Linked DNA regions of Homo sapiens. The protein of the gene in region 1 purifies or fractionates together with the protein of each later gene. This does not show direct contact. Each region holds a gene or a part of one and is shown on either strand. Other genes may lie near its edges. The genes, in order: DMD, SIRT2, USP33, ABCA1 and SIRT5.

What was found.
Region 2: the proteins of DMD (region 1) and SIRT2 purify together in Homo sapiens (affinity purification with mass spectrometry; 2 studies listed by BioGRID and IntAct, with this or other methods). This does not show direct contact.
Region 3: the proteins of DMD (region 1) and USP33 purify together in Homo sapiens (co-immunoprecipitation; one large-scale study listed by IntAct). This does not show direct contact.
Region 4: the proteins of DMD (region 1) and ABCA1 purify together in Homo sapiens (co-immunoprecipitation; one study listed by IntAct). This does not show direct contact.
Region 5: the proteins of DMD (region 1) and SIRT5 purify together in Homo sapiens (affinity purification with mass spectrometry; one large-scale study listed by BioGRID and IntAct). This does not show direct contact.

The regions. Positions count from the first base shown.
Region 1 is NC_000023.11:32,339,014-32,344,854, forward strand, and holds part of DMD (dystrophin), read right to left. Parts: intron 4,274-5,841; coding exon 4,121-4,273; intron 3,838-4,120; coding exon of another isoform or gene 3,829-3,837; exon of another isoform or gene 3,354-3,828; intron 3,270-3,353; coding exon 3,087-3,269; intron 1-3,086. UniProt on the Homo sapiens protein: Anchors the extracellular matrix to the cytoskeleton via F-actin. Ligand for dystroglycan.
Region 2 is NC_000019.10:38,881,938-38,887,778, forward strand, and holds part of SIRT2 (NAD-dependent protein deacetylase sirtuin-2), read right to left. Parts: intron 1,820-5,841; coding exon 1,690-1,819; intron 1-1,689. UniProt on the Homo sapiens protein: NAD-dependent protein deacetylase, which deacetylates internal lysines on histone and alpha-tubulin as well as many other proteins such as key transcription factors.
Region 3 is NC_000001.11:77,737,012-77,742,852, reverse strand, and holds part of USP33 (ubiquitin carboxyl-terminal hydrolase 33), read left to right. Parts: intron 1-1,104; coding exon of another isoform or gene 1,105-1,155; coding exon 1,156-1,236; intron 1,237-1,423; coding exon 1,424-1,477; intron 1,478-1,913; coding exon 1,914-1,976; intron 1,977-3,435; coding exon 3,436-3,588; intron 3,589-5,841. UniProt on the Homo sapiens protein: Deubiquitinating enzyme involved in various processes such as centrosome duplication, cellular migration and beta-2 adrenergic receptor/ADRB2 recycling.
Region 4 is NC_000009.12:104,816,546-104,822,386, reverse strand, and holds part of ABCA1 (phospholipid-transporting ATPase ABCA1), read left to right. Parts: intron 1-880; coding exon 881-1,012; intron 1,013-2,317; coding exon 2,318-2,460; intron 2,461-2,663; coding exon 2,664-2,801; intron 2,802-3,503; coding exon 3,504-3,724; intron 3,725-4,982; coding exon 4,983-5,055; intron 5,056-5,841. UniProt on the Homo sapiens protein: Catalyzes the translocation of specific phospholipids from the cytoplasmic to the extracellular/lumenal leaflet of membrane coupled to the hydrolysis of ATP.
Region 5 is NC_000006.12:13,594,083-13,599,923, reverse strand, and holds part of SIRT5 (NAD-dependent protein deacylase sirtuin-5, mitochondrial), read right to left. Parts: intron 4,448-5,841; coding exon 4,360-4,447; intron 2,962-4,359; coding exon 2,908-2,961; intron 2,197-2,907; exon of another isoform or gene 2,060-2,196; intron 895-2,059; exon of another isoform or gene 893-894; coding exon 769-892; exon of another isoform or gene 283-768; intron 1-282. UniProt on the Homo sapiens protein: NAD-dependent lysine demalonylase, desuccinylase and deglutarylase that specifically removes malonyl, succinyl and glutaryl groups on target proteins.

The DNA.
Region 1 (5,841 bases):
TTAAAGATTATGTCTATTTTCCAATGTTAATATATATACAGAAAGGAGACGAAGAAAACTTTCATGCATTGAGCCTGCATAACGCAGCAGGTGTTTGACAAATATTACCTTATTTAATCCTCAGAAACATCCTTATCTCTATTGTACAGATGAAGTAAATGAGACTCAGTTTATCCCTGATCATACAGCACTCAAAGTCACTGGGATTCATATTCAAGGCTGTTTATCCAAGAGTTAATTTTACTAGACCACACTGCTGTGATAGTACATCCTATAGAACTATCCCTTTTCCTCAGTTTACAGTCCGTGCTTGGTCTTAACTGAGGAACCTAGTTTCTAAACCAACAGGAAATATATTAGAAATGATTGGAATTCCTAATTAAGGCAGGAGTTCTCTCATTTTGAATATCTGGTAAAATTTTTACCTGCGTCCTCCCAGTCTCATGCCTCTTTCTTTATCATCTCCAGGTTTGCCCTGAGGACCACAATTTGCAGATACCCTCTACTATGCTTTGGTCTGCATTCCTGTGTGGCTGGGCGCTGCCTCATGATTGTTCCCTCAAAGTCTCAGTCCTTTTCTGAGCTTTATTACTACCATATATAGCTCTGACATGGACAGAGTCCCCTAAATGCCTTAATTTTACAGTGGTTAGCACTTCTCTGAGTCTTTATCTGTGAGATAAGGAAAATTAATTTTTCATTTTAAACTCACTCAGCTCTCACATACTAAGCATTTTAAGAGTACCGCTTACTATTTCAACATGTTGCTGTAAAGACATGAAAGATGAACTTTAAGCCTACAGTTTATATCTAGAAAAACAAAAAGGGACAGTTAGGAAAAGTAAAAATCAAACAATTAGAGAAGGAGAATATAGGGGGAGGTAAGAAATTCTGAAGCTATGGCATATGCTGCATCAGAGCCATTGTAAGGTTATATCAAATACTACTTTTCATTAAGCTGTTACTGTGACTATCACAAATGACTCTAGGGCGTAAGAATTGGGAAAGATAACTCTAATCAGTGGCCACAGTGAAATTAGTTTTAAAATGCATTGACAATTGGTCAAGTATAAAGATGTATCTTGAATATTTCTACACCCACCTGTCTATCTATCTACCTACCAACCTATATACCTACTTATCATCTATCAATTATCCCTCAGTTCTAATTAAAATACGATGCCAAATATAACTGCAATATTAAATTGATTATTCTTCATACAGATTGTGATTACTTTATTATCATGGATAATTAAGAGTTAACACAAAAATAGCCCCCTTCACATTCTGAATTTTGGATCTTTAATATATAAAACTTAAGAATAAATCGTTTATGAGGAAAATATATCCCAGAATTTTACTACAATTTTTTAAAAATATATACTGGTTCACACATGCTTCCTTTATTTCACCAGTCATTATTACGTTGTACAAATATTTGTTGAGAGCCTACTATGAATAGGGACATAATGGCATTTTAAGTAAGTGGTTTATGGAGATTTTTGATCCTGTGCCTATTTAGCCATAAAGCATTAGCAACTTGATTAGTTTGTAACGAATTTTAAACCTGCATATTGGGTGTGTCAAGACCTGGGGAAAATTGGAATGGAGAAATGAGTTAGTAGTCAGATAATTCAAAGCAAAGGACTCCCCCTTGAATGATCTATTAAATTGAGGTGAAACTATTTTATTAGAATTTTCTTTTTGATTGCCTTAATCTTTCGCTTCATTTTGCATCTGCAGACACAGGCTTGCTGGTTAGTGTAAGGTTATTTATGACACATTACATTCATAACATCTAATATGAAGGATAATAGGCTGAAACATTCAGCCAGGTGGAATTAGACTTCACATGCAATACAGTTTCGCTATTTCTCGTATTCTTCCAATTGCTCAGAATAATTCACCTGCTATTAAACTTTAGGGTATTAGATTTAACAGAAAACAGTGTATTTATTAATTTTCTTGAAGTATTAAAAGAAGTCACAATAATATGCAACATACTTCCCTTATATGCTTATAAAATTAAGTTATGGTAACTGCTTTTGACATTTTAAAAATATACACCAAATTAAATGGAACTGACACTATCACAGAAGAAGTTCCCAAGAAGTCTCATACATGGGCTGAACCCTATGCAGTTATTATTTACATAGGGCAAAATGGTTGAGTATCTGTTTGATTCATATAATTCAACCTAACTTAACTATAAAGACTTAGTTTCCAGATTTTGACATCCTGGTTTTGTGAGGAGTACTTTCTTCTATAATTACAGATGATGATCATTCCTCTTCATCTTACAAGTGTTAATAATAGGAACAAAAATGTACCTGTCAGAAAACCTCTATGGTTTATACCTACTACAAATAAAGAAGTGAGACCAAGCTAACAATTCTGAATCGCCTTTTTAAAGAGAGAACCATACACTTTCCATTCAGTTGTTTGAAAGAAGAGCAGTCACTCCTTTTTGTTTTGGCTGGTAACATTTCAGTAATAACATTATCTGATATTGTTCAATCTGCAATCAATTAGCAACCATCTTACTAGGCATCCAGTTCTTTTATGGGCACTGTAACCCATTAAGTAGTTAAACCAGGTGTGAGGATTAAGCTATTATTCTTCAAGTCAATGAGATAATGGCTTATGCAGGTTGACATAAGATGTACCATGAAATATTTATTATTTATCATGTATACATTAAGAAAGTAAAATCAGCATGGGATGATCTCAGGAAAGCAATACATATTTTTTGGATTAGACATTGAAGTAAAGTGAATGTATGATAAATTGACAAATTAACATTGCCAATGTTATGAAAAATGATGTAGCAAAAAAAATTAAGATGTATTTTCATTTTTGATAAGGGGTTTTCCCTGTTATCTGTTAATTTCTTGTGTCTTTAATTGGCAAAATTAAGCACTAGTGTTACAGAAGCCCAAAGTGAGGGAAACCACTCACTTTCAGAATGTACATTAGAAGTTTAAAACTGTACCCAGATTTTTTGTCTCTTTTTTTTTTATTAGTAGGCCTCTGTTAATAGAGTAGTAGTTGCAAACACATACGTGGGTTTGCCAGTAACAACTCACAATTTGTGCAAAGTTGAGTCTTCGAAACTGAGCAAATTTGCTCTCAATTTCCCGCCAGCGCTTGCTGAGCTGGATCTGAGTTGGCTCCACTGCCATTGCGGCCCCATCCTCAGACAAGCCCTCAGCTTGCCTACGCACTGCATTCAGCTCCTCTTTCTTCTTCTGCAATTCCCGATCAATTTCCTATTGAGCAAAACCAATACAGGGCCCAGGGCAGTTAGCTAACCACATCAACCGACTTGCAAGCAGCAAATACTTCTCTCAAAATTTCAAAGGCTGTTGTCCCTTTATTGTCATCCTTTGAAGTTTACAAATATGAAAGGCATGACTGTCATCCTCGCTCAATAACCCAAATATTATTTCAGTTATCCTTTGAATGCTTGGTTTTAGATATTCTAATTAAGTAAATATTGAAATTGGTCTAACATTTTCTTTCTTCTAAATTCCTCTGGTGTCTTGGGATTTGAAACAATTTGGAGTGATAACTCATTATTTATTAGGGACCGTCCACATAGAATATAATTTAGAGGGTAAGTGAATAAGTTATTTATTTCCTTTTTAAAGGTTTGAGGAACTCAACAGAGAATGAAGCAAAATAAAAAGTGTAAAATAATAACAGAAAAAAACATATTTAGACAATATGCAAATAAATCTATAGAGAGTGAACACTGATGTGTGAAGATGCTCTGATGAAATGAATGGGCTAACATGAGTAAGAAGTCGTCCATATACCGATAAGTCATTAGTTCATCTGGAACAAAGATACACAAAGTCAATTACAATTTTACCAGAAAACACATCACATTTCTTAAATCACTTTACATAGTCTAAAACATTTTATTCATTCAACATTACGTCAATTGAATAACACTTAATACAATACATTTACTGAAAACAACACACAATACAAGGAAATGCATCAAATCAAAGAGAACGTTAATAGAAACAAGAACATCAACATTTTAAATATGATCTTCACAGGTTAATTAAACTGTATAATAAAATCTGGTATTGACATTCTAAAACAACATTACCTTTATTTTCCTTTCATCTCTGGGCTCAGGTAGGCTGGCTAATTTTTTTTCAATGTCATCCAAGCATTTCAGGAGATCATCAGCCTGCCTCTTGTACTGATACCACTGATGAGAAATTTCTAGAGCCTTTTTTCTTCTTTGAGACCTCAAATCCTGTTCATGGTGCAGACATTATTAAAATATCAATATATATGTATAGTGCACTTCTGGCTGCAGTTATTTATCAAAATAATTTGCGTCCCTCATCTTTTTGTACAACTTAGGTTAAAATCATATTTAAATGCAAAATATACAAAGACATAATTAAATTGCCTATGCATGAGGCGGGACCCATGTATAGGAAGCTAAGAAACCTGAATAACACACTTAAAGTATTTTCTCTTAGCATGTTCAAACTTGCTTAAAAATTTTGTCACATTCAATTGACTCTTAATGAGCTAACTGTTGTGTAGTTTATGTGCAAGAGTTTAATATACGAATACAATTGACTTAACTAGATACAAACTCACAAACCTAGTGAGTTTGTATCTGACTTAAAATAGGTAAAATTCTAAAATGTATATCTTTAGCCTTGGGGCTCATCAACAAAACTTTATGTACTCAACCAATATACATTCATGTTTTTAGAAATGCCTACATAAGAGTTTCATAGGCCATTAATATTTTATGATTAGAAATATAAAGCCATTTTAGTTGTCTTATAAACTGTTCCAAGCTGTATGTGTAGAAGTGTCACCACTGTTCGTATATTGGTGAACATAACTAATAAAAAATTATGTGAGATAAATGCTTCTCCTTCCAAGGCTTGCATAGCCACATTTATCTTACTATACCAAATCATGCTCTAAATGCAAAACAATTAACTATTTGAAAAAAGAAAACAGCAAGTGCATGCTTTCAAATCAATGTGATAAGACTAATTTAATAAATCAACAATGGGAGGAAATCAGTCATCATGCTCTTTACAAGCACACTCAATATCTTCTGTGATTAATAGAATTACTCAAAATGCCATTTTATAATTCATGGGAACATAAGCTCTGCATGCAGCTTTCATTTCTACAGAAAGTAGCAATTAGGGTTTTATTCACAGGTTTAATTCGAGCGAAAAAATAATAAATATCAGGGAATTTCTAAAAATTTCATTCCATTGGAAAATTTTGACCTTCTCTAAAATATTTCATAAGGACCAGAATTGGAACTATTTGACAGGTTTAAAAAGTTATTGAATATGTTGGTATAGATTGGTTTGGCGAGTAGTGTTGACGATTTTGATTAATCACTTATAGCCTGTATTTGCAAGAATGAACTACATTTCATTATCTAGTTTGTTTAAAATTGGGAATTTAAACCTTGCTGTACTTTATGTTTTATGTTGAATTTTCAAACCTTCTGAGGAGTCAGATCGAACGCTGCTTTTTTCAAAGGTAGCAAGATACAGCCACGTGAATTAGAGTTGAGCCATGCCTTATTTGTGACATAACTCACATCTTTGCCAGGAGAAAGGGCTTGGTGGTCATCAATCTGAAACATCTTTCATTTCCTAAGCACAAAGTGATGTATAATATGTAAAATATTTAGAGATGTCATGTAGATTTCTTTAGAGGAATGCCAGATGACCATTAAACACTGCTATTCAGTAGGACACACACCATCATACGACCAGTGTAGATACTTCTGAAAGCTTGCTCACAGTTGGAAGGGTGTGAGTTACATAGCGT
Region 2 (5,841 bases), on another chromosome or scaffold:
TTTGGCTTCTCAAAGAGCTGCAATTACAGGTGTGAGCCACTGCGCCCGGCCTTATTGGTTTGTTTGTTTTTTTGAGACAGGTTCTCACTCTGTTGCCCAGGCTGGAGTGTGGTGGTGCAATCATGGTTGAGTGCAGTGGTGTGATCATAGCTTACTGCACCACCGACTTCCCAGGCTCAAGTGATCCTCCTGCCTTAGCCTCCCGAGTAGCTGGGCTCACAGGCATCCACCATCGCACCTGGCTACATTTTATTTTTTTTAGAGATGGGATCTCCCTATGTTGCCCAGGCTGTTCTCAAACTCCTGGGCTCAAGTGATCCACCCACCTCGACGTCCAAAAGTGTTGGGATTACAGGCATGAGCCACTGTGCCTGGCCTTATTTCTTATTGATTTAGGAAGCTTGAAAGCATTTCTGGCCGGGTGTGGTGGCTCACGCCTGTAATCCCAGCACTTTGGGAGGCTGAGGCGAGTGGATCGTTTGAGGTCAGGAGTTTGAGACCAGCCTGGCCAACGTGGTGAAACCCCGTCTCTACTAAAAATATAAAAATTAGCCAGGGGTTGTAGCACGTGCCTGTAATCCCAGCTACTTGGGAGGCCGAGGCAGGGAGAATTGCTTGAACCCGGGAGGCGGAGGTTGCAGTGAGCCGAGATTGCACCACTGCACTCCAGCCTGGGTGACAGAGCAAGACTCCATCTCAAAAAAAAAAAAAAGAAAGAAAGAAAGCATTTCTGTCACTTGCAACCCACTGAATTCTAAGTCATTTGCTCAACTGTCCATTCATTCATTCAGCACACATTTATAAAGCATTGTTTCAATGTCAGTAGTCGGTAATTTTCTTTAAAATATTTCTGCATGGACAGCATGACACCGTGGGTGCTGCCTGTGACGCTGCTGTCAATGACACATAATGGGGGTAATGTGAATTGTACACTGCCCCCAGCTGCTTGCAGTTGGGCTATTCAGGAATCCTCAGCCCAGGGGCACTCAGCTGGCATTTTATCAGAACAGCCACACTCCAGAGGCCCTTCTGCAAATGCTGCAGCTGTCCTTATCTCACAGGGACACCAGAGGCTTTGTTAAATCAGCATAAAGAATGTCAGAAATGGCTTTCCATGAGTGGAATAAGTGACTTCTTGTTTTTTTTTTTTTTTTTTTTTTGAGACAGAGTTTTGCTCTTGTTGCCCAAGCTGGAGTGCAATGGTGCGAACTCAGCTCACTGCAGCCTCCGCCTCCCAGGTTCAAGCGATTCTCCTGCCTCAGCCTCCTGAGTAGCTGGGATTACAGGCGCATGCCACCACACCAGGCTAATTTTTTTTTTTTTGTATTTCTAGTAGAAACGGGGTTTCACCATGTTAGCCAGGCTGGTCTTGAACTCCTGACCTCAGGTGATCTGCCCGCCTTGGCCTCCCAAAGTGCTAGGATTACAGGTGTGAGCCACTGCTCCTGGCCTACTATCATATATTAAAAACAGCCAAAGACAGGAAATCAGGCAGTTGGGCTGCAGTGAGCCATGATCACCCACTGAACTCCCCGCGTGGGCGACAGAGTGAGACTCTGTCTCAAAAACAAACAAACAAAACAAAAAAACCCCAAAGAATTGAGCAGGACAGAATGGGTGCCCACTGCATGGAGACACTGCTCCTGGTGCTGAGAGGAGGCCTGCCCTCAGGATGCCCTCCAGCCTCACCTTTCATCCAGCTTAGCGGGTATTCGTGCCGGCAGCTGGCGCTGACGCAGTGTGATGTGTAGAAGGTGCCGTGCGCCTCCACCAAGTCCTCCTGTTCCAGCCCGGCTATTCGCTCCAGGGTATCTATGTTCTAGAGGGAGAGATGGAGGGAAGAGGGGTGAGGAGTGAGCCACCCCTTGTAGGCCAGAAGGCACAGTAGGGAGTTGAGGGCCACGAGGAGCAGTGAGGTGGTGGGGACAGGTGGAGAAGGGAGGGAGGAGAAGCAAGTGGCAGGGTTTATCTGAAGACTCTTCTGTTCATCCCAATGGTGCCACTTAAAGGGTGACAGTCAAGGCTGCTTAAAGGCAGGGGCCAGGCTGGGCATGGCGGCTCACGCCTATAATCCCAGCACTTTGGGAGGCTGAGGTGGGAGGATCACTTGAGGCCAGGAGTTCAAGACCTGCCTGAGCAACATATCAAGACGCTTGTCTCTACAAAAAATTAAAAAAAAAAAAAAAAAAAAAGGGGCCCAAACCTAAATATCTATGAGGCCAGGCCCACAGCCACTCCACAGCCTGTGTGGCTTTTATTCTGCAAATTCAGGCCATTTGCTTTCATTTTTCAGAAAAAAAATGTTGTTTTATTAGAGCCAGATGCTTTATTTCCACCTGTCATTAATTGCTGAAATTAACATACATTTACAATGTCTCTGTTATTAATGGAGCCCCCTCAGATGTGGCATCCTTGTGCAGTGCGCACCCTGCACAGCTGCATGTGGCAGCTCTAGGCAAGCATTAACATAAATGAATCAGGAGGGCTTACTAGGTGTGGTTTGTTTGTTTGTTTGTTTGTTTGTTTTTTGAGATGGAGTCTTGCTCTGTCACCCAGGCTGGAGTGCAGTGGCACAATCTCGGCTCACTGCAACCTCTGACTCCCAGGTTCAAGAGATTTTCCTGCCTCAGTCTCCCAAGTAGCTGGGATTACAGGCACGCACCACCATGACTGGCTAATTTTTGTATTTTTAGTAGAGATGGGGTTTCACCATGTTGGCTAGGCTGGTCTCGAACTCTGGACCTCGTGATTTGCTTGCCTCGGCCTCCCAAAGTGCTGGGATTATAGACATGAGCCACTGTGCCTAGCCATGTTTTTTTATGTATTTGAGACAAGGTCTCACTCTGTCGCCCAGGCTATAGTGCAGTGGTACAATCATAGCTCACTGCAGCCTCCAACTCCTGGGCTCAAGCAATCCTCCCACCTCAGCCTCCACATCTGGCTGATTTTTAAAATTTTCTGTAGAGATGGGGTCTCACTATGTTGCCCAGGCTGGTCAGCGAGCCTTCTGCCTCAGCCTCCCAATGTGCTGGGATTACAGTGTGAGTCATCATGCCTGGCCCTTCCTTGGCTTTAATCACTATCTTCCCCTTTAGTAGCCAGGGTCCTTTCTTACTATGGCCTGTTTCATAGATGGCATATTCACCTGTGTTCTTTTCTTTTTTTGGAGGCAGGGTCTTGCTCTGTCACTCAGGCTGGAGTGTAGTGGTCTGATCACAGCTCACTGTAGCCTTCACCTCCTGGGCTCAAGCCATCCTCCCACCTCAGCCCACTGAGTAGCTGGGACTACAGGCAAATGCCACCATGCCCGGCTAATTTTTTATCTTTTTAATTATTTTTGTAGAGATGGGGGGTGGGGTGGTCTCCCTATTTGCCCGGGCTGGTCTTGAACTCCTGGGCTCAAGTGATCCTCCCACTTCAGCCTCCCAAAGCGTTGGGATTACAGGCGTGAGACACCATGCCCAGCCACTGTTTTCTTTTCTTTTCTTTTCTTTTTTTTTTTTTTCAGATGGAGTTTCACTCTTGTTGCCCAGGCTGGAGTACAATGGCGCTATCTCGGCTCACTGCAACCACTGCCTCCTGAGTTCAAGCAATTCTCCCTGCCTCCGCCTCTCAAGTAGCTGAGATTACAGGCACCCGCCACCATGCGTGGCTATTTTTTTTTTTTTTTTTGAGACGGAGTCTTGCTCTGTTGCCAGGCTGGAGTGCAGTGGCGCAATCTTGGCTCACTGCAAGCTCCGCCTCCCAGGTTCAAGTGATTCTCCTGCCTCAGCCTTCCAGGTAGCTGGGAACACAGGCACGCGCCACCATGCCTAGCTAATTTTTGTATTTTTAGTAGAGACGGGGTTTCACCATGTTGGTCAGGATGGTCTCGATCTCCTGACCTCGTGATCTGCCCACCTCAGCCTCCCAAAGTGCTGGGATTACAGGTGTGAGCCACTGCGCCCGGCCACTGTTTTCTTTTAAGACAGTGAGACTTTCCATATTAAACAGGTGGGAATGTTCTTTTCTGCACAGACATTTGTGCGCGCTCATTTTTCTTAAAACAACCACCCCCTTTGGAGCAGCTGTTGTTTGCCTGTGAGGAATGCCGCTAAAACAGGTGCTGACAGAGGACACTGGCAGAGGTTACGCAGAGATGGCTCGCATGTGTGGCCCAGGGCCAAACTGACAGCGTTTCCCAGGGACTCCAGAAACAACGGGAAGGGTTTGTTTCCCTTCAAGGGCAGAAAGAATGCTCTAACTGCCTTCTGGGCTCCCTACCAGCAACCACCTTATCTCCAAAGCCTACAGACAAGAGTCACTGTCACTGTTCCCACACGCCCTGTAACTTTCCTCCCTTGCCCACTATTCTAAATCTTGGTTTTGCCTTTGGTACTTGACTCAGTCTACCCACTGACTCCCTCACATGTGAGTGAGCAATTTGCAAATAACTGAACAGTAAGCAAATAACTGAACAGCGTGGAAAAGAACCACCGAAATACCTCTGCGTTCTGTTATTCTTTGACAACATGGTTTTTTTTTTTTTTTCTTTTGACAGGATTTTGCTCTACTGGTCCAGGCTGGAGTACAGTAGCTTGATCATAGCTCACTGTAGCCTTGAAATCCTGGGCTCAAGCAATCCTCCTCTCTCAAGCTCCCAAGTAGCTGGGACTACAGGTGTGCACTACCATGCCTGGCTAATTTTTTTTTTTTTTTTTTTGAGATGGAGTCTTGCTCTGTTGCCCAGGTTGGAGTGCAATGGCGGAATCTTGGCTCACTGCAACCTCTGCCTCCCAGGTTTAAGTGATTCTCCTGCCTCAGCATCCTGAGTAGCTGGGATTACAGGCACGCACCACCACACCCAGCTAATTTTTGTATTTTTAGTAGAGACAGGGTTTCACCATGTTGGCCAGGCTGGTCTTAAACTCCTGACGTTGACTTTGGCCTCCCAAAGTGCTGGGATTACAGACGTGAGCCACCGCGCCTGGCCTTTATATAATAGTTTGTATGTGATGTGTCATTTTTTTTCTTTTTTTGAGACGGAGTCTCTCTCTGTCACCCAGGCTGGAGTGCAGTGGGGCAATCTCAGCTCAGGGCAACCTCCACCTCCCAGGTTCAAGCAACTCTCATGCCTCAGCCTCCTGAGTAACTAGGACTACAGGCATGTGCCACCACGCCTGGCTAATTTTTGTATTTTTCGTAGAGATGGGGTTTACAACAGCACCCCCTTTCCCGAACACATACACCGTTTCTGACTCCCCTTCCAGCTTAACTGTGTTCCAGGGACCCATGACCATCTTATATGCTCAGTATATGGTGTCTCCATCTTGTCCATCATCTCCCTCCCTGCTGTAGGGAATCAACTCAGTGAACATTTACTTTGACAGAAGCTGACAAACAAGGGCCAGCGGGGTCTTGGGGTGAGTGTCATGACATCAACCACAAAAAGCACTTGGCTTCAAGCAAGCTGTTATCATATCTGAGCCACGTCCTGGAATAATGGTGACTCTCTGGGCAGAAGGTTTATTCTGAGCCCGGAGTCTCCCTATGTTGCCCAGGCTGGTCTTGAACTCATGGGCTCAAGCGATCTCCCACTTTGGCCTCCCAAAGTGTGGGGATCACAGGACTCCTCCTCTTGGAAGAAGGAGGCCTCCGCTGCCCTCTGCCTCCTACCAGCCCCAGGTGGGAACACCTCGCCCACCTGAGAAATCTGAACTTAAAGCCAGTTGTTCCTCCCCCTGGCGGTAGCTTTTGGGGCTGCAGGTGCCAAACTGCAGGTACAGGGAGAAAACACTAGAACACTTATTTATTTTCAATGTTACCACTCTTTTTTGTTTGTTTGTTTGTTTTTTTAAATTG
Region 3 (5,841 bases), on another chromosome or scaffold:
AACTATTACATAGACCTGCATGGTTTATTGAATAACTTATAAACCACAAAGGAAATTAAATTTACAGTGTTTCTGAAGTTCAAACTTTTAAACTGTTTCATTCTATCCTAGCAAGTTCTAAACTTTTTTTGGGAAAGTGTTCTCAAACCTCAAAGTTGAATTAAGAGCATGAAAAGCCCTGTTATTAAAAAGGTACAACCAAAAGATCTAGGAATACCAAATTAGACTTGAGACCTTTGGAAATCACTCGCTTTACTTGAACCAAACACTGTGGATCAGTAAAGTTTGCATCTCTTAGCCTTATGTGCAAATGAAGCTAATAATGGTGCCTATTTCAGGGGTTGTAAAGATCATGAAAATGGGGTTCTCAAACCTGGAGAGATTTTGTCCCCCAGAGGGTATAATTTAAAACAGTCTAGAGACACTGGTCATCAGAGTTCAGAGTGGTGGCAGGGATGGTCTGTCTGTCTCTTGTGGATAGAAGTGGGAATGTTGCCAAATAACCTGCAGTGCACAGGACAATCCCTCACAGCGAAGAATTATCTGGCCCTAAGTGTCAATAGTGCCGGGATCGAGAAACCCTGATATAAAGTGCTTATCCTGGTATAAGGCCAGGATACCAGATGATTTAATTTATGCCATCAGTAGGGGGTCCTATTAGTAGAAAAATGAAGCTTTCTACTTGAAGTTTTTTTTTTTCAACTCCTAGTCCAGCCTAAGGATTAATTTTTTTTTTAAAAGGATAAAAGTGCTTCACAGTTGAATAACTTGAATATTCCCCCCTTTTATTTATCTATAAAAAGTGAAATGAGAGGGGAAAAGCAGCAAAAGTCATGGAGAAACAAACTTACATTTGTTTATAGATGTCAATTTTAATAAAATGTTTATGTAGTAGAGAAATTTCCAGTGTTCAGATTAACTTCAATTCTGAAAACTCATCTATGTTTGAGAATACACTCTTTTTACAGGGCAAACTTATATCATTCTTATGTTATCTTTTAATCATTTTTAATATGTTAACATTTTAATTTTTTTATTTTTTGGAATCTTTGCAGGCATTGTAAGCATTTATTAATTTTTTTGTGTGTGTTACTTTTCTTATAGGTGTTACCTCATTTTGAAAGTCTTGGGAAACAGGAAAAAATTCCTAACAAAATGTCAGCTTTTCGAAATCATTGTCCACATTTGGATTCAGTTGGTGAAATAACAAAAGAAGATTTGATACAAAAATCCCTTGTAAGAAACAGGTTTTTTCTTCCTTGAAAAACTATTCACTTTTCTCTTGAATGTGTAATTTTCATAAATTACTGTAATACTCTATGAGCAGTATTTTAAAAATATGTATGATGTCATTAGTGCATTAGTGAATTGTATGTGTTTGTGTCAATATAACCAATGTTGTCTTTTTAATTTCTTTTTATAGGGTACTTGTCAGGATTGTAAAGTCCAAGGACCAAATCTTTGGGCATGTCTGGAGGTGTGTATATGTTTTTTCCTGAAAAGATTGCTATAATAATAATAAATTTGGATCTGAATAATCATAACCAGAAAATTTTTGATACTTAAAGTGATTTTTGTAAATTAAACTTGCTTTTAAAAGGTCATTATTAATAACAAAAATTAAACTTTGGAAAGATCTTAATCTGTAGTGCTTTTGTAGTTTTTAGTAAATCACTCAGCTATTTTATGCTTGCCTTTTATTAGAAATGACATAGCTTTTAGCTTAGAAATATATCCTGGTTTTATTTTGTGCCTGGAAACATTTGGTTAAATTTAATGACTGGAAAGTCATTTACTCATTGAATGTAAAACAGGTAATCCAAACTTAATTGTAAATGTAATTGTAATGCTGTTATAAATTTACATGTATATTATAAAGTACCTTATTTTTCTTCCTATATAATTATTTATAGAATAGATGTTCATATGTTGGCTGTGGTGAATCACAAGTAGATCACAGCACCATACATTCTCAGGTATGTATATAAAAAATTTAATGGAAGACTTGTTAAAAAAAGTGCCTGAAGGAAAGGGAAAGCCAGTATAACATTATTAATTCAAGTTGTAATTCAAATTTGCACTCTAAGTTAAAACTTCACTTACATTCTCTGTGAAGGATGGGGAAGGGAATTGCTAGGAGGATGAACATTAGAATGAGGTTGTGATTAAGAAAGCACTGATTTCAAAAGTGTACATCCGGCCAGGCATGGTGGCTCACGCCTGAATCCCAGCACTTTGGAAGGCCAAGGCAGGTGGATCACCTGAGGTCAGGAGTTCGAGACCAGCCTGGCCAACATGGCGAAACCCTGTCTCTATTAAAAGTACAAAAAAATTAGCTGGGTGTGGTGGTGGGCACCTGTAATCCCAGCTACTCGGGAGGCTGAGGCAGGAGAATTGTTTGAACCTGGGAGGCGGAGGTTGCAGTGAGCCGAGATCGTGCCATTGCACTCCAGCCTGGGCAACAAGAGCGAAACTCCATCTCAAAAAAAAAAAAAAAAGTGTATATCCAGATATTTGAAGGTGATAGCTGGCATATTAGGAGGTTGAAGCCCAAGAGAGAGTGGGTGCTTAGGTTTATGACATGGCCTGGCTAACTTCTTTAAGTCTCAGCTCATGTCATATTGCCTTTTCCTGCACATAGTCCTAACTGGACTCACCTTTCTGCTTTGCTCTGGTTGTTTGGTACTTCCCATGTAACTCTGGCATGCCTCTTCTATAGTGTTATGTAGAGCTCCCATTCTAAATGGAAAGTTTCTCGAATGACTTTGTTTTAAGATGCACATTGATACCTCTACAGCATCAACTGTTCTCAACCAGGATTCCTCTATAGAATTAATTAAGCCTGAATACCCAAGCTCTGAGTCATCATTGTATATCATTTGCCTCTTTCTGTGCATCTAAGATGGTATTTGCTGTGTACCACCATTGGGAGAATTGATAAATTAGTCACTCAGATCATTTTTTGTAGGGCTTAATTCTGTAGCAGAACTCTGGTTGTGAAAGGCTAGACTTTTATCTTTCCAAGATTATATATTCTGTATTGCTAGAGCTGTTTTATGCCTTGACTCATGTCATTTGTGTTCTTTTGCCATTCTGATTTCTTAGAATAGTTACTTGCTATTGTTAATTATTTTCTTGTGTTATATTTATTTGTAGACTGCAAAGCAAGGTCTTACACTCTTGCGTTTATCTTTTTGTATAATGAATAGTGAGGGGAGAATGGCAGAGTAATTTCTAGAGTAGGCTTAGATGTTGTTACTGTTTATTATACCTTAGAAGTTTATCTAAAGAATTTTTTTCATGTTCTAAATTAGCTTTTGAGTATATTGTTACTCATCAAAGGCAAGCAGTTTATCTTCTGTTATCTTTTGAAGAAGTCTTTTCAAGTATATGTAATTTTGGTTCCTCTTTTCCCTCTACTGTGAAATTATATAGGAGACAAAGCATTATCTAACTGTGAACCTTACCACTCTTCGAGTATGGTGTTATGCTTGCAGCAAAGAAGTATTTTTGGATAGGAAATTAGGAACTCAGCCTTCATTGCCTCATGTAAGACAACCTCACCAAATACAAGAAAACAGTGTCCAGGTAATAATCTAGATCCACTTAGTTAAGCTGTAAAACATTCCGGTAATAATTTCAGAATTTGTCATGTAGCTGAAATTTTCAAAAGGAATACTGCCTAACCTGTACTTTGAAAATTTCTGTAATGTGCCTTTTTTCTCTCAAATAAAGCACTCAGACTCCCCTTTCTTGTGTTGCTTAGAGTGCTAGATTAGGGTGAGATTGAAGCCCACCTGTTTGAAGATGGAAAAGGCCCTAATGAATTTTTGAAGTTTTTTTTTTTAAATGACTCAAGTAGTCTTTATCTTTTTCTGGTAAGTCTGATTTCAAGAAAGGTGGTGGGCCTTCTTTGATAGCATATGGCAGTTACTAATTCAGCTCTCTTCCCCGTTCTCTCCTCCCCTCCATCCCCTTTGTATTACTGTGAACATTTTACTTATTATTGACAACAAAGTAGAATATAATAAAGCTTAGCATCAGTCTTTGGGTTAAAGATTTTTCTCCCTTTGGGCTGGGTGCGGTGGCTCACGCCTGTAATCCCAGTGCTTTGGGAGGCCAAGGCGGCTGGATCACGAGGTCAGGAGATCGAGACCATCCTGGCTAACATGGTGACACCCCGTCTCTACTAAAAATACAAAACATTAGCCGGGTGTGGTGGCGGGCACCTGTATTCCCAGCTACTTTGGAGGCTGAGGCAGGAGAATGGCGTGAACCTGGGAGGCAGAGCTGGCAGTGAGCCGAGACCTTGCCACTGCACTCCAGCCTAGGTGACAGAGTGAGACTCCATCTAAAAAAAAAAAAGAAAAAAAGATTTTTCTCCTTTTGGATCAAGAGACTTAGAAAACACATGGGTTTGCTTGCAGAATTTATCACTTAATTTTCAGAATTCTTAAAGTCATAGAAAAATAGGAAAAAGGAAATTAACTTAGAATAGTTGGCTTCTTAATCAGATCATCAGTTGATCAGAATTTGATCAGATTTGATTAACAGCAAGTTTTTTTCCTCATGTGTGTTATAGAAATCACATATTTCTGTACTTGTTCATTGATACCAACTGTCAGGTTTTTCTGTTGTATGTTTGTATCACATTCTTATGGTAGATATTTGTGATAATAAATTTGCTTGCCTTACACATGAAAGATGGCTAGATTTTAGTCAAAGAATAATTTCTTGCATTTTCAGTTTCTCAGTTGAATGGCTCTAGTTAATTATAACCATTACTGTTTCTCCCACTTATACCTATTTATCATTCACAAACATGTTTAGTCTTTTTCAAAAGTCCAGATAGTATGAAAATGGCCGTTTCGTTGAATCCTCTTACATTATTAACAAAAGTTTGTCCCACTGAAGATAGCTGAATGGTAATAAGTAGAAAAAGTTTTAAAAAAGAAAAAAGTGTAATGTTATGACTAAAGTTTAATCACACAAGGAACTAATAATATATAAAGGCAAAACTATCAGCATCACTTACTAGAGAAGTAAGTTAAATAAGCTATCTGTTGCCATTTCTGCCAGAAAAGATCAAGATTACAAACTTTAATAAATGTTGAATCTGATAGAATAAGTATACTGATACTTTCCTGATGGCTTGTTAATAATTTTCTGATGACTTGTAAATATGTTAACACATAAAAGGCATAAACTTAATTTCATTCAACTTCCTTATGATCCCATTGTTGAAGAAATTATTCAGAAGAAAACAGTGGTTCAGATAGATTTCTTTAGTGGTCCAAAACTTATATGCTGTTGAAATCCAGTTTACCACAGGATATTTGCAAAATAGTAAAATATTGGAGGCCATGCAAATATTAATAAGATTTTTCAAATAGACATTTTTTCTAGATAGTAAAATTTCAGGTGATTTAAGCCTCTGTACTTCTGTGTATTTAGATATTTTGTAGTGAGCATGTATCTTTTTAAAAGCAATTACTTTATGAAAACAAAATGAAAGTATGAAGTCCACTCAAATGTCCAGTCTCTACAGATGTCAGGAAAGTAAAATCGTTGGGAATTAGTGCATATGCCTGCATTTTAGAGGTAAAGTAAGGCTATAATAACTTGGAGAACCAGAGTACATGCTAAATTCTTTCTGCTATTCAGTTTCCTTCTCTGTTTGGGTGTTGCTGAATGTTGGTTCATTGTAGTTCAATCTTCTGATATTACAAGAGAACTTTCAAATTTTGATTTTTATTTGTCGTCTCCGAATTTTTTAAACTTTAGCTCAAAGTTTTTTTCGTTTTTTTTTTTAAAGTGTTTACTAGCATTTGGCTAACAGGT
Region 4 (5,841 bases), on another chromosome or scaffold:
CACATGAGGAGTTGCCGAATGTGAACATGTTATCTAATCATGAGTGTCTTTCCACGTGCTAGTTTGCTAGATGTTATTTCTTCAGCCTAAAACAAGCTGGGGCCTCAGATGACCTTTCCCATGTAGTTCACAGAATTCTGCAGTGGTCTTGGAACCTGCAGCCACGAAAAGATAGATTACATATGTTGGAGGGAGTTGGTAATTCCCAGGAACTCTGTCTCTAAGCAGATGTGAGAAGCACCTGTGAGACGCAATCAAGCTGGGCAGCTGGCTTGATTGCCTTCCCTGCGACCTCAAGGACCTTACAGTGGGTAGTATCAGGAGGGGTCAGGGGCTGTAAAGCACCAGCGTTAGCCTCAGTGGCTTCCAGCACGATTCCTCAACCATTCTAACCATTCCAAAGGGTATATCTTTGGGGGGTGACATTCTTTTCCTGTTTTCTTTTTAATCTTTTTTTAAAACATAGAATTAATATATTATGAGCTTTTCAGAAGATTTTTAAAAGGCAGTCAGAAATCCTACTACCTAACACAAAAATTGTTTTTATCTTTGAATAATATGTTCTTGTTTGTCCATTTTCCATGCATGCGATGTTAGGCATACAAAATACATTTTTTAAAGAATACTTTCATTGCAGATTGGAAACTTCGTTTAAAAAATGCTCATACTAAAATTGGCATTTCTAACCCATAGGCCCACTTGTAGTTATTTACCGAAGCAAAAGGACAGCTTTGCTTTGTGTGGGTCTGGTAGGGTTCATTAGAAAGGAATGGGGGCGGTGGGAGGGTTGGTGTTCTGTTCTCTCTGCAGACTGAATGGAGCATCTAGAGTTAAGGGTAGGTCAACCCTGACTTCTGTACTTCTAAATTTTTGTCCTCAGGTCAATCCTGACCGGGTTGTTCCCCCCGACCTCGGGCACCGCCTACATCCTGGGAAAAGACATTCGCTCTGAGATGAGCACCATCCGGCAGAACCTGGGGGTCTGTCCCCAGCATAACGTGCTGTTTGACATGTGAGTACCAGCAGCACGTTAAGAATAGGCCTTTTCTGGATGTGTGTGTGTCATGCCATCATGGGAGGAGTGGGACTTAAGCATTTTACTTTGCTGTGTTTTTGTTTTTTCTTTTTTTCTTTTTTATTTTTTTGAGATGGAGTCTCGCTCTGTAGCCAGGCTGGACTGTAGTGGCGCGATCTCGGCTCACTGCAACCTTGGCCTCCCAGGTTCAAGCGATTCTCCTGCCTCAGCCTCCCGAGTAGCTGGGACTCTAGGCACACACCACCATGCCCAGCTAATTTTTGTGTTTTTAGTAGAGACGGGGTTTCACCATGTTGGCCAGGATGGTCTCAATGTCTTGACCTCGTGATCCGCCCACCTCGGTCTCCCAAAGTGCTGGGAACACAGGCATGAGCCACTGTGTCTGGCCACATTTTACTTTCTTTGAATATGGCAGGCTCACCTCCGTGAACACCTTGAGACCTAGTTGTTCTTTGATTTTAGGAGAAGTGGGAGGTGAATGGTTGAGCTGTAGAGGTGACATCAGCCCAGCCAGTGGATGGGGGCTTGGGAAACATTGCTTCCCATTATTGTCATGCTGGAGGGCCCTTTAGCCCATCCTCTCCCCCGCCACCCTCCTTATTGAGGCCTGGAGCAGACTTCCCAGACCTGGTAGTGCTTCAGGGCCCTGGTATGATGGACCTATATTTGCTGCTTAAGACATTTGCTCCCACTCAGGTTGTCCCATCAGCCATAAGGCCCCCAGGGAGCCCGTGTGATGGAGCAGAGAGAGACCTGAGCTCTGCAATCTTGGGCAAGGCTTTTCCCTTATGTTTCTTCTTATCTAAAGTGAACAGCTGGGGCTCATGTGCTCCCTCCTCATCTAAAGTGAACACATGGGGCTCATGTGCAGGGTCCTCCCCGCTTTCAGAGCCTGAGGTCCCCTGAGGCTCAGGAAGGCTGCTCCAGGTGAGTGCCGAGCTGACTTCTTGGTGGACGTGCTGTGGGGACAGCCCATTAAAGACCACATCTTGGGGCCCTGAAATTGAAAGTTGTAACTGCCTGGTGCATGGTGGCCAGGCCTGCTGGAAACAGGTTGGAAGCGATCTGTCACCTTTCACTTTGATTTCCTGAGCAGCTCATGTGGTTGCTCACTGTTGTTCTACCTTGAATCTTGAAGATTATTTTTCAGAAATTGATAAAGTTATTTTAAAAAGCACGGGGAGAGAAAAATATGCCCATTCTCATCTGTTCTGGGCCAGGGGACACTGTATTCTGGGGTATCCAGTAGGGCCCAGAGCTGACCTGCCTCCCTGTCCCCAGGCTGACTGTCGAAGAACACATCTGGTTCTATGCCCGCTTGAAAGGGCTCTCTGAGAAGCACGTGAAGGCGGAGATGGAGCAGATGGCCCTGGATGTTGGTTTGCCATCAAGCAAGCTGAAAAGCAAAACAAGCCAGCTGTCAGGTGCGGCCCAGAGCTACCTTCCCTATCCCTCTCCCCTCCTCCTCCGGCTACACACATGCGGAGGAAAATCAGCACTGCCCCAGGGTCCCAGGCTGGGTGCGGTTGGTAACAGAAACTTGTCCCTGGCTGTGCCCCTAGGTCCTCTGCCTTCACTCACTGTCTGGGGCTGGTCCTGGAGTTTGTCTTGCTCTGTTTTTTTGTAGGTGGAATGCAGAGAAAGCTATCTGTGGCCTTGGCCTTTGTCGGGGGATCTAAGGTTGTCATTCTGGATGAACCCACAGCTGGTGTGGACCCTTACTCCCGCAGGGGAATATGGGAGCTGCTGCTGAAATACCGACAAGGTGCCTGATGTGTATTTATTCTGAGTAAATGGACTGAGAGAGAGCGGGGGGCTTTTGAGAAGTGTGGCTGTATCTCATGGCTAGGCTTCTGTGAAGCCATGGGATACTCTTCTGTTATCACAGAAGAGATAAAGGGCATTGAGACTGAGATTCCTGAGAGGAGATGCTGTGTCTTTATTCATCTTTTTGTCCCCAACATGGTGCACTAAATTTATGGTTAGTTGAAAGGGTGGATGCTTAAATGAATGGAAGCGGAGAGGGGCAGGAAGACGATTGGGCTCTCTGGTTAGAGATCTGATGTGGTACAGTATGAGGAGCACAGGCAGGCTTGGAGCCAACTCTGGCTGGCCCTGAGACATTGGGAAAGTCACAACTTGCCTCACCTTCTTTGCCGATAATAATAGTGGTGCTTACCTCATAGAGGATTAAATTAAATGAGAATGCACACAAACCACCTAGCACAATGCCTGGCATATAGCAAGTTCCCAAATAAAATGCTACTGTTCTTACCTCTGTGAGGATGTGGTACCTATATATACAAAGCTTTGCCATTCTAGGGGTCATAGCCATACAGGGTGAAAGGTGGCTTCCAGGTCTCTTCCAGTGCTTACCCCTGCTAATATCTCTCTAGTCCCTGTCACTGTGACAAATCAGAACTGAGAGGCCTCACCTGTCCCACATCCTTGTGTTTGTGCCTGGCAGGCCGCACCATTATTCTCTCTACACACCACATGGATGAAGCGGACGTCCTGGGGGACAGGATTGCCATCATCTCCCATGGGAAGCTGTGCTGTGTGGGCTCCTCCCTGTTTCTGAAGAACCAGCTGGGAACAGGCTACTACCTGACCTTGGTCAAGAAAGATGTGGAATCCTCCCTCAGTTCCTGCAGAAACAGTAGTAGCACTGTGTCATACCTGAAAAAGGTGAGCTGCAGTCTTGGTGCTGGGCTGGTGTTGGGTCTGGGCAGCCAGGACTTGCTGGCTGTGAATGATTTCTCCATCTCCACCCCTTTTGCCATGTTGAAACCACCATCTCCCTGCTCTGTTGCCCCTTTGAAATCATATCATACTTAAGGCATGGAAAGCTAAGGGGCCCTCTGCTCCCATTGTGCTAGTTCTGTTGAATCCCGTTTTCCTTTTCCTATGAGGCACAGAGAGTGATGGAGAAGGTCCTTAGAGGACATTATTATGTCAAAGAAAAGAGACTTGTCAAGAGGTAAGAGCCTTGGCTACAAATGACCTGGTGTTCCTGCTCATTACTTTTCAATCTCATTGACCTTAACTTTTAAACTATAAAACAGCCAATATTTATTAGGCACTGATTTCATGCCAGAGACACTCTGGGCATGAAAGAAAGTAATGATAATAGTTAATTTTATATAGCGTTGTTACCATTTACAACCTTTTTTTTTTTTTTAACCTCTATCATCTCAATTAAAGTGCAGAGAGACCCTGGGAAGAAGGTAACTATATTTATTATCCCAGATGAGGGAAGTGAGGCTTGTAGGGAATTGGTAGCTGATTCAAGGTCACCCAGCAGGTAAATAACAGTGGTGGGACCAGACCCAATTACCAGGTATGTTTTCCTCTGTACCGCAGTACATGCCTGAGATTTATTTGTGTGTTGAAGCCAGTGGTACCTAATGTATTTACATCCCAACCTGAAACTCCTATCCACTTATTTACCTTTTAATGAGCCTCTTAACTCAAGTGCAGTCTGAGGACCAGCAGCATCAGGATCACTTGGGAACTTGTTAGAAATTCAGCAACCTGGGCCCAGCTCAGACCTACCGAATCAGAATCTGTGCATTTTAACAAGGTTCTTGAGTGGTTGAACACACATTAAAGCATGAGAAGCATTGAACTAGACATGTAGCCAGGTAAAGGCCTTGCCTGAGATGGTTGGCAAAGGCCTCATTGCAGCATTCATTGGCAGGCCACAGTTCTTTTGGCAGCTCTGCTTCCTGACCTTTCACCCTCAGGAAGCGAGGCTGTTCACACGGCACACACATGCCAGACAGGGTCCTCTGAAGCCACGGCTGCCAGTGCATGTGTCCCAGGGAAAGCTTTTTCCTTTAGTTCTCACACAACAGAGCTTCTTGGAAGCCCTCCCCGGCGAAGGTGCTGGTGGCTCTGCCTTGCTCCGTCCCTGACCCGTTCTCACCTCCTTCTTTGCCATCAGGAGGACAGTGTTTCTCAGAGCAGTTCTGATGCTGGCCTGGGCAGCGACCATGAGAGTGACACGCTGACCATCGGTAAGGACTCTGGGGTTTCTTATTCAGGTGGTGCCTGAGCTTCCCCCAGCTGGGCAGAGTGGAGGCAGAGGAGGAGAGGTGCAGAGGCTGGTGGCGCTGACTCAAGGTTTGCTGCTGGGCTGGGGCTGGGTGGCTGCGGGTGTGGGAGCAGCTTGGTGGCGGGTTGGCCTAATGCTTGCTGGGGTGCCTGGGGCTCGGTTTGGGAGCTAGCAGGGCAGTGTCCCAGAGAGCTGAGATGATTGGGGTTTGGGGAATCCCTTAGGGGAGTGGACACTGAATACCAGGGATGAGGAGCTGAGGGCCAAGCCAGGAGGGTGGGATTTGAGCTTAGTACATAAGAAGAGTGAGAGCCCAGGAGATGAGGAACAGCCTTCCAGATTTTTCTTGGGTAGCGTGTGTAGGAGGCCAGTGTCACCAGTAGCATATGTGGAACAGAAGTCTTGACCCTTGCTATCTCTGCCTAGTCCTAATGGCTGGCTTTTCCCAGGAAGGCTTCTGCTTCCATGGACTGTTAGATTAACCCTTTATTTAGGTAAATGAGGGAACCTACTTTATAAGCATAGGAAAGGGTGAAGAATCTTTTAAGATTCCTTTACTCAAGTTTTCTTTTGAAGAATCCCAGAGCTTAGGCAATAGACACCAGACTTTGAGCCTCAGTTATCCATTCACCCATCCACCCACCCACCCACCCATCCTTCCATCCTCCCATCCTCCCATTCACCCATCCACCCATCCAGCTGTCCACCCATTCTACACTGAGTACCTATAATGTGCCTGGCTTTGGTG
Region 5 (5,841 bases), on another chromosome or scaffold:
AACTGCTGCGTGAACAAAGTAGTTTCAAAACAGAACATATGTCATGAACTCAGTTTTGAATTTTAATTAATACGTGTACATCTGCATAAGAAAAGGTTTAGACCAGAGGTGGGCAAACTTATTCTGAAAATGACCATACAGTAAATTTTTCAGGCTTTGCAGGCCATTCAATCTCTGTCACAAGTACTCAACTCTGCCACTTGTAGTTTGAAAGTAGTCATAGACAGTGTGTGGAAGAATGAGTGTGGCTGAGTTCCAATAAAACTTTATTTCCAAAAACAGGTAGCAGGCCCAATGTGGCCCAAAGGCTGCTGTTTGCTCACTCCTGGGTCTAGAAGAAAACATACTAAACTGCTAACGGTAACTATTTCTGGATAGCAGAACTATGGGCGATTTCTAATTTCCTCTTTATAATGTGATAATTTTTGCATGTTCTCAATTAAATTTAATCATAAGCATGTATTATTTAAAAAACCAATAGCATGTTCTTTTCTTTGTTTTTGGTGGGGCTGGGGGAGGAGGCTTTGAGATGCCCAAGACATGCATGGTTTCCTATTTTAATACAAATTCTTATTCATTGTTTCTCAGTTTTTCTATAGGATACCACAAAGACCTCTCAACATACATTTGAAGGAAAGGAAGAAATGGAGGGAGGAGAGAAGGCGGGAAGGAAAGAAGCAAGGGAGGGAGGAAGGAAAAGAGGAGAGGGGGAAGGAAAAAATAACAAACTCCAGTCCTGTCCTGGGGTTAGGGAAGGGCATGACCCACCACTAGACATAAATCACAGTGGGCGAGCTCTCTGTCAACCTCCTCCAGAATGGCAGGATCCAGGTTTTCTCCAAACCACACGACGTGAGGTCGCAGCAAGCCCCCGCAGCCTGCCTCTTCACACCTGGAAGAATGGGATCCTTAAGCCAACCCCGAGCCAAGTCTGCCCAGCTGGATCGGAGGGAGGCCAGGGGCTGCCCCAAACCTAGTACATCCAGATGGGTCACCTCTGATGCCTCTTATTCCCTACACCCTCCCTCCCAGCCTATATAAACTTGCCTTGCTTATGAAGCATCAGGTTTAATGGTCTTTTTTTTTTTTTTTTTTTTTGAGACGGAGTCTCACTCTGCTGCCCAGGCGGAAGTGCAATGCCATGGTCTCCGCTCACTGCAACCTCTGCCTCCCAGGTTCAAGCAATTCTGCCTCAGCCTCCCGAGCAGCTGGGACTACAGTCATGTGTGACCACACCCAGCTAATTTTCGTATTCTTAGTAGAGACATGTTTCACCACATTCGCCGGGCTGGTCTCAAACTGCTGACCTCAGGTGATCTGCCCTCCTCGGCCTCCCAAAGTGCTGGGATTACAGGCATGAGCCACCGCGCCCTGCAGAACTGTCCTTATTTTTTATCTTGTCTGTATGTACTTGATGTGCTGACACATTGTTTCAGCTAAGCTTTCCCAGTTCATTCATTATGCTCACATTTGTGCTCACAGCCACCCAGACCTGGGAGACATACTGGACTCAGATTTGCCTCCCACCCCAAGCATCCCCTAATTTCATCAATGACCTCCTTTCATGTTCTCTCAGGTTCATGTCTCTCTGGCCCAGTATGTAGCCAGCTTTCCTGTGTCCATTACTAAAAATCTCTCTTCTTTCACTCCCTCCTACCTCAGGGTTACCTTCTATACACCTCCTAAAACCATCCCCCAAACACCATTTTCATCATAGTAATCTCCTGCATCACAGGAATCCTCCAGGTCTACCTATTCCTTCAGAAGAAAACTTTTAATATTTAGCAATTAAAACCCTCATGAGGAAAATTTAAAAGGTTCTGTGGTTAAATAAGCCAGTAAAGCATTAACATACGTATTACAACCACTTTTTAGAAGGCAGCAATGTGGATTAAATGCTCTAAAAAGTCCTGCAGTAAAGCAAACATATTTTAACTTTGTTTAGTCTAACATTTCCATATTTATTTGAGTGCCTAACATGTTTTTTTCAAGTAATGTCTCAACGTAACATTAAATTAATGTTCTATGAAACACTTTTAGAAGTGCTGTTTTATTTTACCTTAAAAACACTCTAATCCAGCCGGGTGCAGTGGTTCACGCCTGTAATCCCAGCATGTTGGGAGGCTGAGGCGGGTGGATCATCTGAGGTCAAGAGCTCGAGACCAGCCTGGCCAACATGGCGAAACCTCATCCCTGCTAAAAACACAAAAAATAGCCAGGCGTGGTGGCGGGCGCCTATAATCCCAGCTACTCGGGAGGCTGAGGCAGAAGAATCACTTCAACCCAGGAGGTGGAGGTTGCAGTGAGCCAAGATCGTACCATTGCACTCCAGCCTGGGTGACAGAGTGAGATTCCATCTCAAAAAAAAATAAAATAAAATAAACACAACAAAAAAACTTCTAATCCAATTACAGGTTATAGAAGTGCTGTTTTAATGCCTGGTTTTGAAAAATTGGCATAAAAATCTTCCTTTTTTTTTTTTTTTTTTTTAATCTATGAACATTCTGTTTGGTCCTGTAACCTCTCCTATTCAGGTCCTTTCATTGCCTCCCTAACCCTGGATTAATAATGCCAGTGATGTTATTTGACCAGTTACAGGTCAGCCCCTATGCTTTCTGTACACTGGGTAACCACCTGTCGCACGACAGCTTCAGAAACTTTCCCGACCTCAAATGATCCTACCACAACACAAAGCAAAAAGAGGTTGGAAAAAAATCATTCTTTTCATCCTAATTTGGTTCATCCTTTGTCCTTTCACTTTTGGTCTCAGAGATCAAGCCTGGTTTTTACATTTGTGCATTTGATTTAAGAGGCGTCTTGCCAAATACATGTTTAGGTTTTGATGTCTGTTTTTTTTTTTGTTTTGGTAACCTGGAACACCAGTACAAATCAGAGTTTTCTACCTACCGGGGAAGTTTCTCAACTGGGATGCTGGCATCTTGAGTTCCAGGTTCTGGAGCACTGAAGTAAATAATATTAGAAAAGAAAGATTGTTATTGGCATAATAAAAAATAAAGAAACAACATAACTCAGTTTGTATATTTGCCTGGCAGTATGTGGTATAAAACTCCTAATTAATACATGCTCACTTGGAAGGGCATTAGAAGGAAGGACCCCAAGCCATTAATTACCAGTGGTGCTGGGCACAGTGGCTCATGCCTGTAATCCCAGCATTTGGTGAGGCCAAAGTGGGAGGACTGCTTGAGGCCAGAAGTTCAAGACAACCCTCGGCAATACAGTAAGACTGCATTTCTACCAGAAATACAAAAATTAGCTGAGTGTGGTGATGTGTGCCTATAGTCCTAGCTACTTGGGAGGCTGAGGCAGGAGGATTGCTCGAGCCCAGGAGTTGGAGGCTGCAGTAAGGTGTGATTGTGCCACTGTACTCCAGCCTGGGAAACAGAGCAAGAACCTGTCTCAGAAAAAAAAAAATCACCAGTGGTTGTACTGCCAGTGAGGGAATGCATGTGTGGGGAGGGCTGGAGTGGCTGGGTGTGCCAAGGGGGAACTTCATGTTTACCTTTATACATCATCATCATCATCATTTGTATCCTCTGCAATGACATTATATAGTCCTTATACAATTTATACTGTTTTTAAAAGGCTGAGTGGAATTTTTCTCAATATTGTGTCTACCCTCAAATTTTTTCCTCATTGTAATAATAGTACATGTTCATAATAGAAATATAGGAAAATTCAGAAAGATATAAAGAAGAAATTAAAAATTACCCATAATCCCTCCACTCCTGATATTCCTTATTAACATTTTGTTGTATTTTCTTCTGGTCTTTTAACTATATACAGATACACGAACTCATTGTGTGTACAAATTTAGGACCCTGTGGTTTTCACTTAACACTGTAAGTTGTGAGCAAAATATTTCTTTTATCACATGGCTATATTTAGTTTTTTTGTTTGTTTGTTTGTTTTTTGAGACAGGGTCTCCCTCTGTCACCCAGGCTGTAGTGCAGTGGCATGATCTCAGCTCACTGCAGCCTTGACTTCCCAGGCTCAAATAACCCTCCCACCTCAGCCTCCCTAGTAGCTGGGACTACAGGCATGTGCCACCACACCCAGCTAATTTTTGTGGTTTTTTGTTTTGTTTTGTTTTTTTGTAGGACAGGTTTCTCACTGTGTTGCCCAGGCTGGTCTTGAACTCCTGAACTCAAGCAGTCTCCCCACCTTGTAACCCCAAAGTGCTGGGATTACAGGCATGAGCCACTGCACCCAGCCTTGTATTTAGTCTTATTTCTCATAAATATCCATGGGAATCTTTGATGAATGTTCAATTTCCTCACATTTATGTTCAACCTAAAGGAGAAAACAACCTATACTTATTCTGTAGTGTGGTATAATTACCCTTTTCCTGATAAAGCTGGACAAATTGGACTCTTGTAATTCTCAGCCACAACTCCACAAGAGGTACATCGAGTTTTAAATAAGCTACCTGAAAAATACATATGAAGCAAATCCAGAATTTAGTATAATCAAGAGCAACCTTCTCCATGTCTAAAAGGGTATAAGATACTTTATTTTTCACACTTCATTTCATGTTTTGGTCTCACCCAGTTACCCAGGCTGGAGTGTAGCAGTACGATCATAGCTCACTGCAGCTTCCAACTCATGGGCTCAAGCGATCCTCCCACCTTTGCCTCCTGAGCAGCTGGGACTATAGGTGTGCACCGCCACACTGAGCCATACTTCATTTTAGCAAATGGGCCTACCCTAGCTTTAGCTTTCATGGGAAACAGAGGCATGCAGTACTCTTAAGCCAGTCAAGAGCATATGCCCTCAAGGACTTTATAATCTGGAGGAAAAATAAATAACTCCATGACTAATGTGCCATCAGATGACCTTGGAGTGGTGTTCAAGTGGGCAGAAGTTGCCAATAGGGTAGAGGGAGCTCAACCTAAATCTAAGGGCGTGATTTATTGACATGACTGACAAAGGTTCAATGGCGTGGGATATGTTTACAAAATTTTAACTTCGATTTCAGAAAGCTTGAATCTTTTATACAAAAGCACCTCAATAAATAAGTAATCAACTAATAAGTGAAAAAAGTAATTGTTAATACTAACCACCACTTATTGAGCTGAAGCAATCATGGTGGCCACAGTTTATGAAATGGGTACCAGGCAACTGGTGCCGTGCAGAGCACTTTCAACCCTAGTGGACATGCGCTGCTCCGTCCTGCCCACCAGTCCTTCCTTGGGGAGCACCATCCCTGCTCTCTCGCATGCTGAGCCAATAGGGCTGTGGGTCACATCCCAAATACAAGCTCAGCCACATGCTGCGCACGGCCCCCATGTGGTGTCCATCCCTCTGCAGTCGTGTTTGGTCAGAAGGGTGGGCGTGTGGACCAAGCAAGCCTACCCAGAGGTTTATTTTCTGAGCAGGTGGCTGAGCTGGAGCCGTCGGAGGCACTCTCCCTTGGCGCGTGGAGACAGATCAATTGCAGAGAGAGAAGGGAGGCCACCTCAAAGAGTGAGCAAAGCTGAAAGAAGGAGGGGGACAGGGGCCGGGAGGAAAGATGACATAAGCTGCACCACTAGGCTCCTCAGTTTTGTGAGCCAATAAACCTACTTTGTCAGTTTTAGCATAGACATTTTTCCCCATTTTCACATCTCTGAAATTCAGATGTGTCCTACAATTGCTACTGGCCAGATGAGACTGTAACATCATCATCATGCTTGCACAGACTTGTTGAAGGAGAACACTGAAAAATGGGGTGACTTTGTTGTTATTCTCCGTGGCCTGACCGGGCAGATTCAGCCCCTGGATCCTTCCGCCAACAAACCCTTCAAGGGCCACTTCAGGAAGGAAAGCAAGTTTTGGCTGTTG